Regions from separate parts of the Homo sapiens genome. Here all the other regions are reported to be linked to region 1. Evidence: microRNA targets listed by miRTarBase, many of them from high-throughput screens and not tested one by one. Region 1 holds a microRNA gene; each other region holds the end of a gene's coding sequence.

What was found. Region 1 holds the annotated microRNA hsa-miR-511-5p (GUGUCUUUUGCUCUGCAGUCA, at 1,630-1,650, opposite strand). A microRNA usually pairs through its seed, bases 2 to 8, with sites in the 3' UTR of a target mRNA and lowers its output. Matches are read on the target gene's strand: a 7mer-m8 pairs with bases 2 to 8, a 7mer-A1 pairs with bases 2 to 7 and ends in A, and an 8mer does both.
Region 2: miRTarBase lists ELAVL3 as a target of hsa-miR-511-5p. Seed matches in the 3' UTR shown: 8mer at 867-874 and 7mer-m8 at 2,242-2,248.
Region 3: miRTarBase lists NRIP2 as a target of hsa-miR-511-5p. Seed matches in the 3' UTR shown: 7mer-m8 at 1,694-1,700 and 7mer-m8 at 1,217-1,223.

The regions. Positions count from the first base shown.
Region 1 is chr10:17,843,623-17,846,771 of GRCh38, reverse strand. MIR511 (microRNA 511) reads right to left here and starts at 1,665; the gene lies at 1,579-1,665. It overlaps MRC1 (mannose receptor C-type 1), which reads right to left. Exons shown (of 30, transcript NM_002438.4): 6 at 1,337-1,483.
Region 2 is chr19:11,451,719-11,454,718 of GRCh38, reverse strand. ELAVL3 (ELAV like RNA binding protein 3) reads left to right here. Exons shown (of 7, transcript NM_001420.4): 7 at 1-3,000. The coding sequence ends at 193. Among named protein-coding and RNA genes, the nearest start is that of PRKCSH, 18 kb to the right of the region's middle. RefSeq lists a silencer at 668-849 and enhancers at 1,713-2,483, 2,408-2,527, 2,558-2,607.
Region 3 is chr12:2,824,532-2,827,531 of GRCh38, forward strand. NRIP2 (nuclear receptor interacting protein 2) reads right to left here. Exons shown (of 6, transcript NM_031474.3): 6 at 817-2,768. The coding sequence ends at 2,676. ITFG2 (integrin alpha FG-GAP repeat containing 2) reads left to right here. Exons shown (of 12, transcript NM_018463.4): 12 at 1-545. Among named protein-coding and RNA genes, the nearest start is that of NRIP2, 9.0 kb to the right of the region's middle. RefSeq lists a silencer at 592-886.

The sequences.
Region 1 (3,149 bases):
AAATTAAACATAGAAGCTGTTTATATTCTACGTGGAATGATGTCCAAAATTGTTGTTAAGTGGAAAACTTAGGATAAAAACATATTATAGTATACTGCCATTTGTATGAAACAAAAATAATTATAAATATATTTGTTTATATAGTCACAGAATAACTAAGGATACACACCCAGAAACAATTATTCTCCAGGAAGGTAAACTGGGTGTTACAGGTGAGAGGTAGGGAAAACCTTATTATTTATCATGTTGTATCTTTTGAATCTCTAGCTATGTCAAGCGTATTTTAAAATACATGAAATTGCTTTCAAAGCCAATGGGAAGAAAAAAACAAGAATGCCACATTGTCAGTTTCCTCCAGCAGAAAAACAGAAATAAATTAAACCATTTAAAGCATTCGCTGTCCCTCCAAAAAGAGGTAATAATAAAAAATATGTAGTTTGTCTTTCATCAATTGGAAGAAAGAATTCTTGCCTTAGTAGTTTATTCTCCTATAAAATTGTAAGGGACAACACAATTGATTTTTTTTTTTCTTGAAGTCTAGCCGATATTTAAAATTCAGTTACAGGCCAGGCACGGTGGCTCATGCCTGTAATCCCAGCACTTTGGGAGGCTGAGGTGGGTAGATCACCCAAGGTCAGGAGTTCAAGACAAGCCTGGCCAACACAGCGAAACACCATCTCTGCTAAAAATACAAAAATTAGCTGGGCGTGATGGCACACATCTGTAATCCCAACTACTCGGGAGGCTGAGGCAGGAGAATCACGAACCCAGGAGGCGAAGTTTGCAGTGAGCTGAGATCGCGCCATTGTACTCCAGCCTGGGTGACAGAATGAGACTCTGTCTCAATAAATAAATAAAATTCAGTTACAACTTTTTAGATATTTTATTCTATTTTATGAAAACTTTAGTATAAGACGCTACACTGAATAGCAAGGAAGCCCAGATAGAGCCGTGAGGACCTAATATAAACATCCCTTCCAAATGTTGACTTTCTAGCTTGGATTCCGGTTTTGCCATGTCTGCAAGGTTTCTGTATCCTCTGAATATCTTTTTCCTCAACTATAGCATGTGAATCATGACACCTACCTCAGAGGACTGATTGGGAAGGTAACATTTTTATTTAGGTCAGAGGATCTCCACAATGCCCAGACACCGCCGCACACTCAGGAAATACTAGCAACCAGCACACAGAAATATTGCAGTAATATCATTAAGTTTACCCCATCAACTATCCACAAAACCTCTGGCGGCATTCCAACAGTTACACCTAAGCTGTAATGTTACTTATCTTTCAATTCTAATAGTTGAGGCACTTCAGATCCCATAGATCACTTACCTGAGGGAATAACAAAAGAATTTAAAGTGGTGTTGCCCTTTTTGCAAATATAGCCCAGTTTCTGAACACATTCCAGATTTTCCCATTTAGCATTTTTTCCAGGATTTAGTGACACACAGCTTTTTCCAGGTTCAGCTGATGGACTTCCTTCGAGGAAAAGGAAAAGTTAAAGTGGACTATTATAGCTATTCCCAGCAGATAGCATCCCTCCCACGTCTCCTCATGTCTTCATCCTGGGGATTCAATGGACCACCATTCTGTCTTTTGCTACACATTCACAAAAAAATATTTACTGACTGCAGAGCAAAAGACACGATGGGTGTCTATTGTTTTCTTATCGTTGGATCATTCCAATACTTAGAATGTTGATAAAGCAAATATACTTCTTTGAAACAACCCTTTCCCCCATTATCAGCTAATAAAGCTACACCTTAAAACTTGAACAGTTGTCACAACGGATTACATTATCAAAGAGAGGTACCTAATGAAAAGAATGCATGATTATGCCGCCATAAAAAAAAATGAAATCATCATGTCCTTTGCAGCAACATGGATGCAACTAGAGGCCATTATCCTAAGCGAATTAATGCAGAACAGAAAGCCAAATAGCCATGTTCTCACTTCTAAGTGGGAGCTAAATACCGAGTACTCATGGACACAAAGATGGCAACAACAGAAACTGGGGACTATGAGATGGGGGAGGAATGGAGGGTAACAAAGTTTGGAAAACTAGCTACTGGGTTCTATGCTCACTGCCTGGTTGATGGGATGGATCATTTATATCCCAAACCTCAGCAACATGCAATTTACCTAGGTATGTAACAACCGTGTACATGTATCTCTGAATCTACAAGTAGAATTTATTAAAAAGAAAGAATACATGATGTTCCAAACCTGCCACACTAAACATTATTAGGGCAGGGCACGGTGGCTCACGCCTGTAATCCCAGCACTTTGGGAGGCTGAGGCGGATGGATCAACTGAGGTCAGGAATTCGAGATCAGCCTGGCCAACATAATGAAACCCCATTTCTACTAAAAATACAAAAAAATCGGCCGGGGAGCTGGCGGGCACCTGTAATCCCAGCTACTTGGGAGGCTGAGGCAGGAGAATTGCTTGAACCTGGGAGGCAGAGGTTGCAGTGAGTGGAGATCACACCACTGCACTCCAGCCGGGGTGACAGAGTGAGACTCTGTCTCAAAAATAAAAATAAAAATAAATGGAGGAGAAAAAGCTAATGGGAGAGCTAGATGGGCAGCATGCTGTGCTCCCAGAACTAAAACTGTCTCAATATCTTCAACTCAGCCTACTGAAGAAGACTTTCAGCAGCTATGCCTTATCCATTTCTTAGTGGAAACTGATTAAAGAACCAGATAAAGTCAACGTTGCTAAAGGGATGAATGTAGGCATTGATACATTTCACATGCGTTTTGCTACTCTAATATATGATTTAAAAACCAGTACTCCCCAAACTAGCTTCACCTTCCACCTGAAGACAGGGTGAATGAGCCACATTCTGTTAATACCTATGCTTTGTGACCTCCAATGTGTATGTAACCTGTGCCTGAATGTCACTTCCTTTCCTGCAAGACGGAAATCATATTACCTGCTCCACAAAGTCTGGAGCAGGTAATAACCTAAATAACCTTTTTAAAGTTTTGGTGGTATTCTTTGTGTGGTAATTAAATGATTTTTTTAAAGTTTATTTAACTACCACACAAAGAAAATAATGGTTAGTAATAAGCATTAAGTTATCTTTTTTTTTTCTTTTTGAGATGGAGTTTTGCTCTGTCACTCAGGCTAGAGTCCAGTG
Region 2 (3,000 bases), not on the chromosome of region 1:
CGGGCCTTTTGGGGCAGTCACCAACGTCAAGGTCATCCGTGATTTCACCACCAACAAGTGCAAGGGTTTCGGCTTCGTGACCATGACCAACTATGACGAGGCGGCCATGGCCATCGCCAGCCTGAACGGCTATCGCCTGGGCGAGCGCGTGCTGCAGGTCTCCTTCAAGACCAGCAAACAGCACAAGGCGTGAGCCCACCCCGCCTGCCCTCCCACCCCCTCCCCGGGCAGCAGAGAGAGAGAGAGAGAAAGAGAGAGAGAGAGAGAGAAGGGGCCCAAGAGAGACAGCACAGGCAGCCCCACGGACGACGCGAGGGCCCCACGTCCCTGCGGAAGCCACAGGGTGAGCACTCTGGGGTGGGAGGGTCTGCAGGGAATTGGGGGGGTGCCCGGGGATCCCCCGCCCCATCCTCCTGCCCCCACCCCAGGCTGGGCTGTTCACTCTCTCGTCTTGGTTTGGTTCATGGTGAAGGTTTTTGTTTCTTTTTTCGGCTAAAAAGAATGCAGAGATGTGCCCCCACCCCCACCCTCGACCACCCCCGATGGGATGGCTTGGGGGGCTCCAGGGGGTGCCCTCCCAGACCCCCTTGCCCAGGCCTCCCCAGCACCTAGGTGGGGCCTGGGGTAGGAGGAACAGGTTTAAAAATCCCCAAAAAAGCGAACCGTGAGGAGGGGTGTGGGCACCCCCGGCCCAGTGCCCCCTGGTGGAATGCGGGGGAGCAGGCAGTGGGGCTGGAAGCAGAAACAAAATGAAAAAAAAAGGGGGGTGGGAGGGGAAGAAAAACTCTATTTTTGTAAAAAGGGAAAAAGACCTCGTGGAGAATTTTTACTGGGGATTCTTGAACTTGAAAAAAAAAAACACAAAAAAAGACAAAAAAAAAAAAAGAAAATATTTTGGCAGGTTATGTTTACCAACTGGGGCGGGGGTGGGGGGGGCCCAGGGAGCAGGGCTTAGGGGCTAGCAGCCCACGGGGCCACACAGAGAAACAACCACGCAGACAGTCACACCACGGGGACACACGGACAGACGCAGACGGACACAGCGACATGCCCCAGACACGTTAAGGGACTGGTTGGCCAAACTCAGACACGTGGACAGGGATAGACAGAAAGAGACAGAAGCTGGGGCTACGTCCATGTGGACACAGACCACAGATGTGGGCACACGAATCCATCCACCTGTCCACGTGCACACGTGAATGTAGCGATAGATATTTGGACATCAAATTTGGACACCAGGTCACGGAGAAACACAAACACCACCCAGGAACACGCAGACATATGCCCATAGCATCCCACAGGCCCAGGCAGGAGGTCCCACCCCAGACCCTGCCCCAGACGCTCCCTCACCCTCTCGGCCCCCTCGCCCTGGCCCCCAGGTTCTCTGCAGAGATCTCTCCTGGACCCCCAGCGGTCTCCTTGGCGCCCACGAACACAGGCGTGCACACGCAGCGCACATGCATTGAGACACACGATACCTCGTTCCACCTTGGCGTCACGGTGGGCTGGAGGCAGCCCCCCCCCCCACAACACTTGAGGCCAAAGGACACCCCTGTCCCCGGGGCTCAGCCTCCCCCTGGGCCGAGGCCTTGGCCCACACAGCTGAGGGAGAGGCCCAGCCCTGAGCCTCCCCCACCAGGACTGGGCCTCCCCGGCAGCAAGACCCCGGCACTCCCCGCCAGGCCCAGGGTGGGGTGGATGGGCCCAAAGGCCCAGCCCCACACTCCTTTCCCGTCCACTTGTCACCTACCTATCCCCTTTCGGTTTGTTGGGTTTTTCGTCTTTCCAGATTGCAGTGGACACAGCCCCCGATCTCGAGCCCCGGCCCCCGGCTTCTGTCTGGACATTGCATCGCCCTAGTTTTCTTTCTTTAAAAAAAAAAAATTCCAACAGAAGCCACAGGCCGGAGCCCCTGGGAGCCCTCGCACCGCTCCCCACCCCACTCAGCGGCCCCATCGGAACTGAGAATTGCAAAACCCCCGACTTTAGCTATAGTTAAGTTGCCTTCCCCCGGTGTCCCCACGTTTGGTGTCTGGCTATGGCGCCCCCATCTGACTGTCCAGCTCTCTCTCCCCCACCCCTCCCGGTGTTGTTATTAAACGTCTGTGGAGCTTCTGCTGCAAGGAACAAAAAAGAAAAAAATCAAAAAAGCGACAAAAAAACACAAACAGAAGAGGAAAAAAAAGCAACAAAAAAAGAAAACACACAGAAGAGATTTAAAAAAAAAAAAGGAAAAAAAAAAAAGACATAAACTGGCACCAGTTAACTTTCTTGTACTTTTTTGCTGAATTTAGCTTCTTGTAGTTTTAACTTATTGCTATGTTAACTATTTATTCTCCTCGTTGCCCTGTAAGGACATCCGTGTATATTTCTGTTACTTCATCCGGTTTGCAAGTTAAAGGAACGACAATGTTCTCTTTGTTTCTTTAAGTTTTGCCGAGACATGGTTATGCCTAATTTATTTATAAAAGGGGAAGTGGAATCATTAAAGTAATAATAATTATTAATAACAGTAATGGTAGCCGAGTGGCACGCGGGGGCGTGTGCTCTGCGGGACAGTCCCCACGGCCAGCGACGTCCAGGTCACCAATGGGATTCTTTTTGCTCTTGTCTTGAGAATTTTTTCAGTCCTATTTAGCTGGTGAAATCCCTAGCTTGTTCTTGATACACGAACCTATTTATTCTCGTGGTTTTAAGTCCTCCCTGCCCTCTCTCCTCTCCCCTGCAGCAGGGCAGGGACCCCTCTCCCCTGCTGTCTCTTGGGGCTCTCTCCCCTCCGCCCTCTGCATTCGGGAACACGCACGTCCGCGTGGGAAGCTTGCAGCAGGGCGTCCGAGCAATAAGGGCTGGGTTTGTCCCCCACCCTGGGGGGGGCCAGGCTCCAGAGAGGGGGCACCTCCCCACACACCCCCCCCCCACCGAGGCCTAGGCCCCTGCCACCCCCAAGACTGGGAGGGGACTTCTTTTTCTAAAACACAAAACTCAGCCCAGCCAGGCCCC
Region 3 (3,000 bases), not on the chromosome of region 1:
CCAACACCCATAAGGAAACCAGGCTTTAGGCCCAGGGGAGCAGTGGAGGTAAGGGCTCCACCCCATCTTAAGCTCTGTCTTCCGTGGCACAATTCCAAGTTCTTGACGTTAGTAATTGTTAAAGGAATGGCAAACTGTTTTGTTTTGAAGGATCTTTCTACAGTCTGGTCTTACCCATGTTCCTAGCAACCCTGAGATGATTTTCTTCCATTTACCAAAGCAGCCGGGTCAGTGCTTTCTCACGTTGCCGTATTCTTCAGGTATTAGTCAGCTTCAGAAGCCCTGCTCCCATTTTTCCACCCACCCATTCCCCCATAAAACAGCTTATTGTCTCCAAGACAATAGACATTTAAAATGTGATGCGGGTTTATGATCCAGACCACAATCAGAATTATATCTTGGGTCATTTATGTGCCGTCTGTTCTTGATTCTCTATGCTCTAAATCGGTGTTTTTCAAACTGTGGTTGCAGTCCTTTGGTGGATTATGGCCAGCATTTTTTAAATAGGTAGAATAGAATAAAGTAAAATAGAAAATAGCAGAGTACATTGCTCTCAGTGTAGGTAAGTATTGTTTTGTTAGTCATATGTGCATGTGTGTACTGAGTGCCATGTAAAATGTATTCCTGCTGTGGTAAGCTGTGGTCGAGGAGTTTGAAAGCCATTGCTTTCAAATTCCTCTCAATTATACTGACCCTAGTCAGATGGGTCAGCCTGGGCAAGGGCCCACATTTACATTTCCTTTCTGTAAGGGACAATGGGCAATTATCACTCAGCTCTTGATAGGCAGGGAGGAAGACCAGAGAAGAACATCGACATAGAGAAACAAGAGTTTATTCCAATGGAGAAGCAGCTGAGCCGAGGGCTTGCCATTGGGCCTGGGGTCTGCAGTTACAGAAGCAGCAGGAGGCAGACAAGGAAAGGCACAGCACAAGACCCAGGAAAGTGGACCTTGTGGAGCAAGGCAGTGAGGGCGAGGAAAGCTTTTAGGATTTTGAGACCAGGTGCTATGGCACAAGTGATAAGTGAGCCCTCTCCTTTCCTTCTGAGGGCAGGGGAGGCAGCTGAGAAAGGGCAGGGGAGGCAGCTGAGAAAGGGCAGGCCAGGTGTCACAGGCAGCTCCTTGCATCCCGGTTCTTCTCTAACCCAGTCAACCCCAGGCTCAAGACTGTTTCAGCCCAACGGTCCCAGTTCCCTTGTTCAGGTTAGCTGTACCACTGTCTTTCTCTGCTCCTTTTTTGTTTGTTTTTGGAGACAGGGTCTCACTCCTTCACCCAGGCTGGAGTCCGATGGCACGAACTTGGCTCACTACAACCCCCATCTCCCAGGTTCAAGCAACTCCTATGCCTCAGCCTTCCAAGTAGCTGGGATTACAGGTGTTCACCACCATACCTGGCTAATTTTTGTATTTTTTAGTAGAGATGGGGTTTTGCCATATTACCCAGGCTGGTCTCAAACTCCTGACCTCAAGTGATCCACCCACCTCAGCCTCCCAAAGTGCTGGGATTACAGGCATGAGCCATTGCGCCTGGCCTCTTTCTTTACTCCTAATCCATGATTTGAGAGACTCAAACCAGCCAGAAAGACTCTCAGGGATCTGGCGTCTTAAGGTTCGGGTTCTTCTCTTCACAGTGAATTCAAAAAAGCCTCTGTCTCCTGACAGACCCCAAACTTTAAAAAAAAAAAAAAAGCCTCTGTCTTTTTGCTTTGGCAAAGCCTGGCAGGGGGTTAGAAAGCCACTGATTCCAGGACAATACAAGCTTAAGCTCAAGAGGCCAGAGATGGGGATAGGAAGAAGGCCTAATGAGGTGGATAGTTCTAGAAATCAGAAAGAATGCTGAATAGGTGAAGTCTGAGTGGTGACAACCTCACTGTCCTGTCTGCCTCACAGGAGCAGTTCTCTACAAGGCTCTTCCACACACACACACGCAAGGCTCAGGGGCTCGGTGGGTACAAAAAGCCAGTGGAAACGGATAAATACCTATAGCGTTAATAGCAGAAGTATGTCCAAGGTTTTGCACAGGGTAATCAAACTAACTGGCTTCAGACATTTGCAGCCACAGGAAAAAATAGCTCTCAGCCTTATGAGATGGACATTCCTATACTAACTCCCGCTCTTTGTTGTATTGAATTCTGGCTGTTTCTTCCCCCACTCAACTGTGAGCAGATGTGCACAGACTCCGAGAGGCAGACACCAGGAGGTCCAGGGACATAGGTTGGTGAGGCATGGCGGTCTAGTTGTGGGAGATAATGAGGCCCAGAAGGTGTGGTGAGAGACATGGTGGTGTGGGAAGTTGAGTTGTGTTTGGGGTGGTATTGGGTGATGGACAAGGACAGCAGTCAGCAGAGCCTTCGACCCAGCCCAAGCAGGCACCCCATTGTGCTTAGGTTCCTATCTGTGGTCTTGATTTGGCTTTGCTTTTCTTGGGAGGAAGATGAATCAGAATCCTGGCATCGTGGGCCCTCTAGTGAAAACTCGTCCTGGGGAGTAGGACAGCTGCTGAGAAGCAGAGAGGAATGCGGCCAGCTGGGGAAAATGGGACAGCAGGGGTCAGGGAGGTGATTGGAAGGGCAGACACCATAGTCCCCAGCTACCTGGCTTCAAGAGCCCCCGTTCCCCACACGCCTCTTCTTCTAAGGCAAGGTCTTTCCCTCTGGGGACTGACTGAGACAGCAGTCACTGGCCAGGCTCTTGGTACAAAGGCAGGAAGGGTAGCTCTGAGAACGGGGCTTTCAGCCGCAGCACTCCGTGCTCCAGGTCGATGCAGCACTGCGGGGTGTAGAGCAGTCATGCCAGGTCACCTCAGCCCGCCACCTGCCTCCCGGCCTGCTCCTTTTGTTCCCCCTCCCACTTCCCACAGCTTCCACCTGCCTTTTGCTCTTCCCCCATCCCCATTTCCCTAGACTCCTGTTGAAGGGGGTGACCCAGTTCTCTTGATTTTTCACTTGGTGGTAAGTAAGGAACCTCTAAGGAAGCAAAGGGACAGTTGCCCATCTCTAAG